2 separate regions of the Homo sapiens genome follow, and region 1 is linked to region 2. The links come from fine-mapping of genetic effects on gene expression. A gene starts in region 2. The other region holds a variant in brackets. All regions are shown on one strand. Distances are between the middles of the regions. Region 1 overlaps ETFA (electron transfer flavoprotein subunit alpha). Region 2 holds the start of TMEM266 (transmembrane protein 266).

Evidence for each region. PIP is the estimated chance that this variant, and not a neighbour inherited with it, causes the effect. A credible set is the group of variants that fine-mapping cannot tell apart.
Region 1: its variant is the best candidate, but not a certain one, in a credible set for the expression of TMEM266 in fibroblasts (GTEx, PIP 0.53).

The regions. Positions count from the first base shown.
Region 1 is chr15:76,273,508-76,277,905 of GRCh38, reverse strand. ETFA (electron transfer flavoprotein subunit alpha) reads left to right here. Exons shown (of 12, transcript NM_000126.4): 9 at 3,412-3,494. Among named protein-coding and RNA genes, the nearest start is that of ETFA, 36 kb to the left of the region's middle. The variant C/T (reference allele first, on the strand shown) is at 2,038.
Region 2 is chr15:76,057,852-76,062,249 of GRCh38, reverse strand. It overlaps TMEM266 (transmembrane protein 266), which reads right to left and starts at 2,265. Exons shown (of 11, transcript NM_152335.5): 1 at 2,234-2,265. It also overlaps a transcript of NRG4 not described here. RefSeq lists a silencer at 3,223-3,272.

The DNA.
Region 1 (4,398 bases), 220 kb before region 2:
GAAACCCAAAAGTAGCAACCTCCACAGGAGCTGGTGGTGGGGTAGGGGGACTTGAAGTCTTGTTGATGAATTGTTGGAGGTTCCGTGTTAAAAACTCCAGGTGGGCAGGGCACGGTGGCTCATGCCTGTAATCCCAGCACTTTGGGAGGCCGAGGTGGGCAGATCATTTGAGGCCAGGAGTTTGAGACCAGCCTGGCCAACTTGGCGAAACCCCATCTGTACTAAAAATACAAAAATTAGTTGGGCGTGGCAGCACGCACCTGTAGTCTCAGCTACTTGGGAGGCTGAGGCAGAAGAATCGCTTGAATCCTGGAGATGGAGGTTGCAGTGAGCCAAGATCGTACCACTGTACTCCAGCCTGGGCGACAGAGTGAGACTCTGGTTTTTTGTTTTTTTTTTTTGTTTTTGTTTTTGACAAAAAACTCCAGGGGTATCCAGTGTGAGGTCCCAACATTTTTGTGAATTTTACCTTCAGGAGCTCTTCCACATGGTGAAAATTAGAGAAAAATCACCTCATGCTTCCGACAAGGGGACGGGAAAGGGAACCATTTTAAAATATGCCAGAGCATTCTGTTCTTCTTAACAAGGTCTGATCTCCTTCAGGAGGAACTGTTTAACCAGAGATTAACTTGTGGGGCTTTATCAGAGCCTAACTGACCTGAGGAAAGGTAAATACTCAACTTCAGCCATTCTAGCCATCCTGTCCCACCTAAGGGAGAGAGAGGAACTGAGAAGCATGTGTAAAGTTCACAGTCTCAATATGGTCTTATTGAGGTACGGTCTTAGTAAAAGACCAAGACGTCACCATAGGACTGTAGAATGCTTCCTTTCCCCCAACACCTTACCACCATGTAATAAAGGCTTATTGACAGCACTTCCTTTTACCCGTGTACATCATGTTGGGCTATCAAGAAAATATTGCAAGATATACTAAAAGGTAAAAGACAGTTTGAAGAGACAGAGAAAGCATCAGAACCAGACTGAGCTGGAATAATCAGACTGGAAATTTAAAACAACTGTGATTAGTATACTAAGGTCTCTAATGAATAAAAAGCAAGCAAGATGTGCAATATAAGCAGAGGGCTAGAAATCCACGAAAGAAACAGAAATGCTAGAGATAAAAAACATTGTAGCAGAAATGAAGTATACCTTTTAAGGACTTCTTAGTAGACTGGATATGGCCGAGGAAAGAATCTCTGAGCTTTAGGATATCTCAGTAGAAACCTCCAAAACTGAAAAGCGAAGAGAAAAATAACCAGAAAAAGAAAAAAACAACAACAACAAAAAAACCTGAACTGTAATATAATATCTAAGAATTGTGGAACAGCTTCTAAGAGTATAACATGTAATGGGAATACTAGAAGGAGAAGAGAGAAAGGAACAGAAGCAATATCTGACTGAGGATTTCCCCTCATTAATGTCAGATACCAATCCACAGATCTAGGAAGCTGAGAGAACACCAAATATGAGAAATGCCAGAAGAACTTCAACTAGGCCTATCATTTGCAAACTACAGGAAATAAAAAATAACAAATACTGAAGCCAGAGGAAAAAATCCACCATACCTGTACAAGAGCAAAGATAATAATTAGATCTGATCTCTTTTCAGAAACCATGCAAGCAGAAGAGAGTGTAGTAAAATGTTTAAAGTGCTGAGAGAAAACACTCACCAATGTAGGATTTTATACCCTGTGAAATTATCCTTTAAAAATGGAAGAGAAATAAAGACTTTCTCAGACAAAAATTGGCAGAATATGTCATAGACTTACCTTGCAAGAAATGTTAAAAGTTCTTTTAGAGAGAAGGAAATGATAGAGGTCAAAAACTCTGGTGTATATAAAGCAAGTGAGAGCATTGAAGAGGGAATGAGTGAAGGTAAAATAAGTTTTATTTTTCTTAATTGATCTAATAGGTAACAGTTTAAAATAATAACATTGTATTCAATTACATATGCTCATGTATTACAATTACTTATGTGCTCATGTATAAGTGAAATGAATCACAATGTAAGAAACAGGAGATAGGAATTAGGATTAT[C/T]TTGCTATTAAGTGGTACTTGCACCACCTGTGAAGTAGTAAAGTGTTATTTGAAAGTGGACTTGGATTAGCTGTAAATGAATATTGCAAACTCTAGGACCAGCACTAAAGTAAAACAAAAATACAACTAATAGCTAAGAAAAGAGACAAAATGAAATTATTTAAAATGCTCAGTTGGTGGAAGACAAAAATAGGAAAAAAGAACAAGGGCAACAAATAGAAAACCGTTACAAATATGGTAGATATTAATCCAACTGTGTCAGTTATTACTTTCAACATCAGTAGTGTAAATGCACCAATTAAAGATAAAGATTGTCATAGTGGATGAAAAAGTAAGACCCAACTATATGGTGTCTACAAGAAACCCACTTTAAATATAAAAATACATATACATATAAAGTAAATGAGTGGAGAAAGATATACCATGGTGATGCTAATTGAAAGAAAGCAGGAGTAGCTATATTAATTTCAGATGGAGCCAATTTAAAGTTAAGTTTTATTAGGTAAATAAAACCTGAGTTTTAATACACTTAAAGTTTTAAGTTCTAAAACTTACATTTTAATAAAACTTAATATAACTTAAGTTTCGCTGATATTGGGCTCCATATTCCAGAAATCACAGTGTAAGGGTTAGGAATATGGGAGATTGGTGCAGGTTAGGGAGCATGCAGAGCATTATGGGGATCAGTGTATGGGTTATGAAGGATAACCTTTGAGTTTGGGGCTTATGGGGACAGACATAATGAAGGGCAGGGTGTGATTAGTCCTGGCTGACTCAAGATAGTGGTGGTGAGGCTGTGCGTTTTTGGAGGTTGTTAGTTGTATTGTCTATGGCTCCCTCTGTCCTTTTCAGCTTGAGATGAAGAGGCCTGAGGCTCATTCTTGACTCCTGCTGGGGAAGGGGTTGTTTTACTCCAAGTATAGGGCTCATTGTTGACTCCTGTTGAATGAGAATAGAAAGTCTGTTAAATTTTATTTGTGAATTTGATAGCAAATACTGGTTAAACCTTCATCTTGTTATATGAAACTCTTTGTCCAGTATCTTCTCTTTATAGTATTACAAGAGGTAATATTGTAAAACCTTTCTTCAAAACTTGTGAAGTTATTACTTAAAGGAGCATTATATAATGACATTCTAAACATTATAGTGTAAATTTTATGACTGCCATTTTGATAAAGCATGCAGAAGAGTTAAGCCCAAATTAAAATCTGAAATACTTGGGTATAAAAAGAAGTTATTCCTTGAAGCTTTCTGTATAAAATATACTAGTACTTAGAATTCTAAATCAATGTCTTTGTTTACAGTTATCAGTGAATATCCTAACTAGCTGAATAATAGAGCTTGAAAAAAATGACAAATATTTTTTCCCCTTAGTTGGTGCTTCCCGTGCTGCTGTTGATGCTGGCTTTGTTCCCAATGACATGCAAGTTGGACAGACGGGAAAAATAGTAGCACCAGTAAGTATTGCAATAAAATATGCTGTGTAAAATGTTATGGGGATAAGTACTGTATGTATTTGTTGAACAGTGATCTCAGTGATTTACCTTACTCAGTGTTCCTGAGCAGTTAGCCAGTACCATGGTGAATATGTCATTTTCACAAGGTCTGTGTAGTTCTTGATCCTAGTAAAATGCCCAGCAGTTCTTAAATCCAGCTTATTATTCAAGTATTTTAAAGCAGTGGAACATTTTATCAAATTAAGTCATATTACATCAAATAAAACATTGATAAAAGCAGCATTTTATCAACTCAGATTTATAAGTTCACATTGATAAGATTTATTTCCATAAAGCCTTTAGAGAGTATAAAATCAATGAGAACAATGAACCTATTTTAATGAACAGAATTTTGAAATTGGGAGCTGTGAATGACAGTTTTAGTCTTATATCTTCCTGAACACCTAGTTTCTGTATTTTGTCTTATAGTATCAATTTCAGAAAATTCTGTTCTACATAGATAAGTGATACTAGAATATTCTTCAGTTAAGCCTGTCTAAAACTTGGAAGAGCAGGAAATTTTGGTCTCAAAGTTGAATCACAGTTGATAATGACTGTTTATATTTCTTAGGTGATACAGATTTTCAGTGAATAGGAGTCTCAGCCAGTTTAAACTTGTATAGTATGCAGGAAAACATGTTTTTTATATATTTCAAAACAATATGCAGTCTTGTCCATTAAAAAAAAATCTTACATCCCAGTGCTCTATTCTATGAGATATTCATTCACAGTTTTAAGATGCTGTAGTCAACATTTTCAAGGCTTATTTTTTATTTTTGAAGTTTTTTTTGTTTTGTTTTGTTTTGTTTTGTTTTGTTTGAGATGAGTCTTGCTCTGTCACCCAGGCTGGAGTACAGTGGTGTAA
Region 2 (4,398 bases):
AAGCTGTTATTTGCATGGGATATACTTTCCAAATAATTCCTTCTATTCACCTATACCTTTCTCACCACTATCTCAACTATGTGACCTGAGTAGAAAAGCTATTAGCCCCACTGGGTGAATTTTCACTGATGCAACTACAGCAATTTCTAAGTCCATGAGAACTGCTAGGAATGTTTAACAAAATCCAATACCTGCATTATAATAATGCACTTTAAAAAAATGATTAAATACACATCCATAGCTGAATGCAGAGATTCCAAGAACTTTGAATGCATAATTGCTACAATCATAGAGAGACTGGATTACGAGCCACGGCTGGTACGGATGGATTCCTTCCTCCCATTAAGGCACTCACAGGCAAGTGTGATAGACAATGTTGCTCTGATGACTGGCAGTGAGACCAGAAGATAGTGTGAAGGGCAGCAAGGAGGGTAGGGTGGGATGCGATAATGGAAAATGGGAGTGATTCATTCTACTTAATGCATATACGTTTTATGGGTTTAAATCTGGAGGGAAACAACTTTTTAAACTCAACTCCTTGTGTGTGAGAATTAAATGGAAGCACATCTTGGACCCCACTTTTTATAGGTTTAGTGCCACCTCAAAAAATTCCATACTGATCCATTCTGAAACAACTGCTTTTCTTACTGGAAAGCCACAAAGTTGGTGCAGAATCTATGAAATGGAAAATTAGACCCAAGCCAACATGCTCATGCATAAGCTTGATTTTAATGAAAAGGTACACGGAGCAGCCGCACCTGGAGGAAAAGCCCCCTCAGGGCTCCCCACCTCCAGTATCCCCATGTGCTTGAGTTTGCATCCTTACCCTGTCCCTGACTGTGTGACCTTGGGCAAGTTAGTTAACCTTTCTAAGTCCTGGCTTGTTCATCTTCAACATGGACATAGCAGGTTTGCTGTGAGGACTAAATGAGCTCATACACAAATAGTTTTAGCTCAGTACCTGGTACATATGAACATTTAAGAAACATGTCCTTCTCGTGATTAGATGTGACACTCTGACCATTTTAGAAGCAATTACGGTTCAGCTATCATATCCCAACATCTTGTGATAACCATTTTCATTTTTTGCTTCTAGCTCTTACTATTCTTTTCATCACAATATTTTAGGGTGGAGGTATTTGGGGGAGGAGGTAAGCAGTTATATACATCCCATTTTCCCACTGTTGTTCAAAGCAAGGTGAAAAGCCAGGGAAATAAACACATGCACTGAAGAGAAATTCAGTCTTTAGGATATGATGTGATAGGTGTATGGAATATAAACAAATCATATAATTTCAACCTCTCACATATAGGGCATCAAATCATAGGTAGGTCTTATTTTAAAAGAAAAGCCAAGCAGCATTAAAGAGGATAGAGGGAACCCATATGGGCCTATTGCTAGCTCAGTATTGGTGACTGTGAAACAGGGATGGGTGAGCTAGATTACGGGGGTGTTTCATGGGGTCTGACTTCCAACAGGTGGCTAGCTTTAGTCATGTTCAGATGCAAAACCGTAATGAGTTTGAGTATGCAAGTCCCAGGGATTCTGTTGAAGGCCATCTTTTCTCGGCCATCAAGGGAGACAATTTTCTAGGTTTAAGCCTCCCTGGCAAGTTAGCAAGCAGGGAACTGCCTGCCCTAGCTTGCACCTGTCCCCTGAAGGGGATTCTGGCCTGACGGTGAAGACCCACCATCCCTTCCAGACAGCCCATTCTGCCGCTGGGGCACCTCCCGACAAACGGGGGAAGCCCACTAGGAAGTGGTCACGACCAACCAAGCCACAAATCCTCAGGGTGTGGGATTTCCACCTCTATACCACGTCTGAAAACCGAAAATAGGCGCCCGCTTGCCATACTGCAATGGGATTCCCCCCAGCAGCAACCCCCCCCTCCAGCTTGCATGTTTTATTAATAAATGCAAGATGGCACACGGAGGCAAAGAATGGGAGGTAAGGCATCTGCAGCTGGACCCGAACCAGGGCAGTTTGCAAAAATAAATAAGAAGCATGTGACAAGAAGCAGGTCTCCAGGCTGGAGCTGAAGCCCTGGGCTGCCCCACGCACCCTCGCCTGGCTCCCCCGGCCAGGGGGATGAAGGTCAGCGGCAAGATCCCAGCCCTTCCGAGCACGCATCCTGCAAACCTTGACCGGTCCCCCCACCCCCCGCCCCGACCACAAGACTCGGGCAGTGAGGCAGGGGAAGCTCTGGCCGCGGCCGGCTGCGAGGACACATACCTGCTGCCCGGGCTCGGGATTCGCTCGGCTCTGCAGCGGCGCCGGCCGCGGCTCGCGCTCCCGGGGCTCCCCTCTCCGCCCCCCCGCCCCCTCGCGGCCCCGCCGCTCCCTCCGCCCCTCCGCCCACCGCGCTCGGGGGCGCGCGCGAGGCCTCGCGCCGGCGGCTTGGCCGAGCCCGCGCCTGCGCCCTCGCCTCCCGCCGGCCGCGCGCGCGCGCCCCCGAGGCTGCGGAACGGCGGCGCGGCTGTCTAGGAAACCGCGGCGTCGGCTGGCAGGGGCTGGCGGCCTGAGCTGGGCAGGGGGCGGAGGCGGGGGCTCGGCTGTCTCCGGGGCTGCCACGCAGAGCGGGCTTCGTGGCGTGGGTGAGGGGGTCGCGGGGCAGGGTCGGGGCCTGAGTGCGAGCGTGTGGAGAGGCGAGGGGGCCGCGAAGGGTGGGTTTGACGGGGACGCAGGCGGGGCGCAGAAGCAACAAGTGCGGAGGCCGAGGGCGTCGCTCGGGGAAGCGGAGGACCCCCGCGGGATTTCGTACAGCTGAGAATGGGAACCTCCCGTCGCTTTGGCGCAGCGCTTTGCAGTTTCCAGAGCTCTTTCCCAGTTGCTCCGTTTCATCCGCGCGGGGCGCCCGGTGAGGGAGCGGATGGCACGCAGTGCCCGCTGCGCTTGGAGGCCACCGAGGGGAAAACACCTCTTTCTGTGTGGCCGGAGTCATAGCACGGTCAGAGTGCCTTGACTCTCAGTTGGCTGCCTGGGAGAAAAATACCTGTCAGTACATTCATTTGATGGCCTCAGCTCAGGACCCTTGTAGGACCGTGTTTCTCCTCTTTTTCCGTTTTTCGTTATCTGACTCTTAAAAAGGCTTTTTACACGTCCCCATCTCCTTTCCCCGTGAAATCCCAGTACCGCAGATACACTGTCGACCTGCTTATGTGCTGTATGTGTTATCCGTGCTTGATGCATAAAAAGTAACATTGCGCCCCTTGGAGGCAGCATCGCCCCGGTGGAGAAGCCTGTCCTAGGGCCATGATTGCCAGTTACCGGGTGGGTTAAACGGAACCACTGAGCAATCTGGATGCACCCACAGATATTCTCTGTGGTTAAAAAAAAAGTCCTCACCCATAATGGGTACTACTCTAATTAATGTTTGCAAGGGCTGCTGTGAATACGGCCATTTAAGCAGCTTCTGGATTCATAGTAGCTTATTATCGTTTGTCTTCTCCACCAATTCTTGCTAAAAATATAGCCATTTTCCTATAGGGTGTTGCGATTTTTATCTTAAAATATTTGAAAAGATGGGAAACCCTTGTTTCTAGGACACGGAGTTTCAGAATGGCTTTTGGCTCTGCAGATAGGTTTGATTTCTGATTCTTGTACCTCTTCTAAAGTGTTTTTATTTGATTAGGTCCAGTTGGCCTCCCAGGAATGTCCTTTGTCTTTTCTTCCTGCCGTAGCTTTTTTAGTATGGATAAAATGAAAATGGTAGAGTTGAAGGACTTCAAAACCACCTCTTGGAATTGCCCCACGGTCTTGGACTACCTTCCCTGGATTATACGGGAATATCTATACAGGGAGTATCTACTTTTGGCAAACTGAGAAAAAAATGTAAAATTTCTTCAGATCCTCCTTCGCCTTTCAGCATTTCCTACTCATCTCTAATCTCTAATGGTGGAATTTCAGAGGAAGAAACACTTGGAGATGATACTTGTGGAAGCTACCTGGGTTGCCAAAGGATTTTTCTACATTTCTAGACGGAAGAAATGTGGACTAGAATAGAGAAAGTGGAGATGGGTTAAGAAAAATTAATGGAGGATGCACGGGAGGGGAGCTATAGTTTTCTGACAGTCAGTGACAGCATTTTAACTAGGTACACTTTCTTTAGAAAAAGCTTTGGCATAGCTTGCCCAGATTGTTATCCACTCCATTTTCCACCTTAGTAGAACTCTACTTAAGATTTGATTGAAACTATTGAGAAGCATCCAGTTATAACGCTAATTAACTCTCAGAGTACGACAAGTATTTTGAAACTTGCTGAGAGAAATTTGAAGACCACTTCAAATTTCTACCAGGAATCTTTGTATCCTAATAAAATTTTTTTGAATTCGGGTTCATGCGACTTCAAGGGAACATTTTTTTCTACAATGGCTATTTATAGTATAATAGCCATTGTA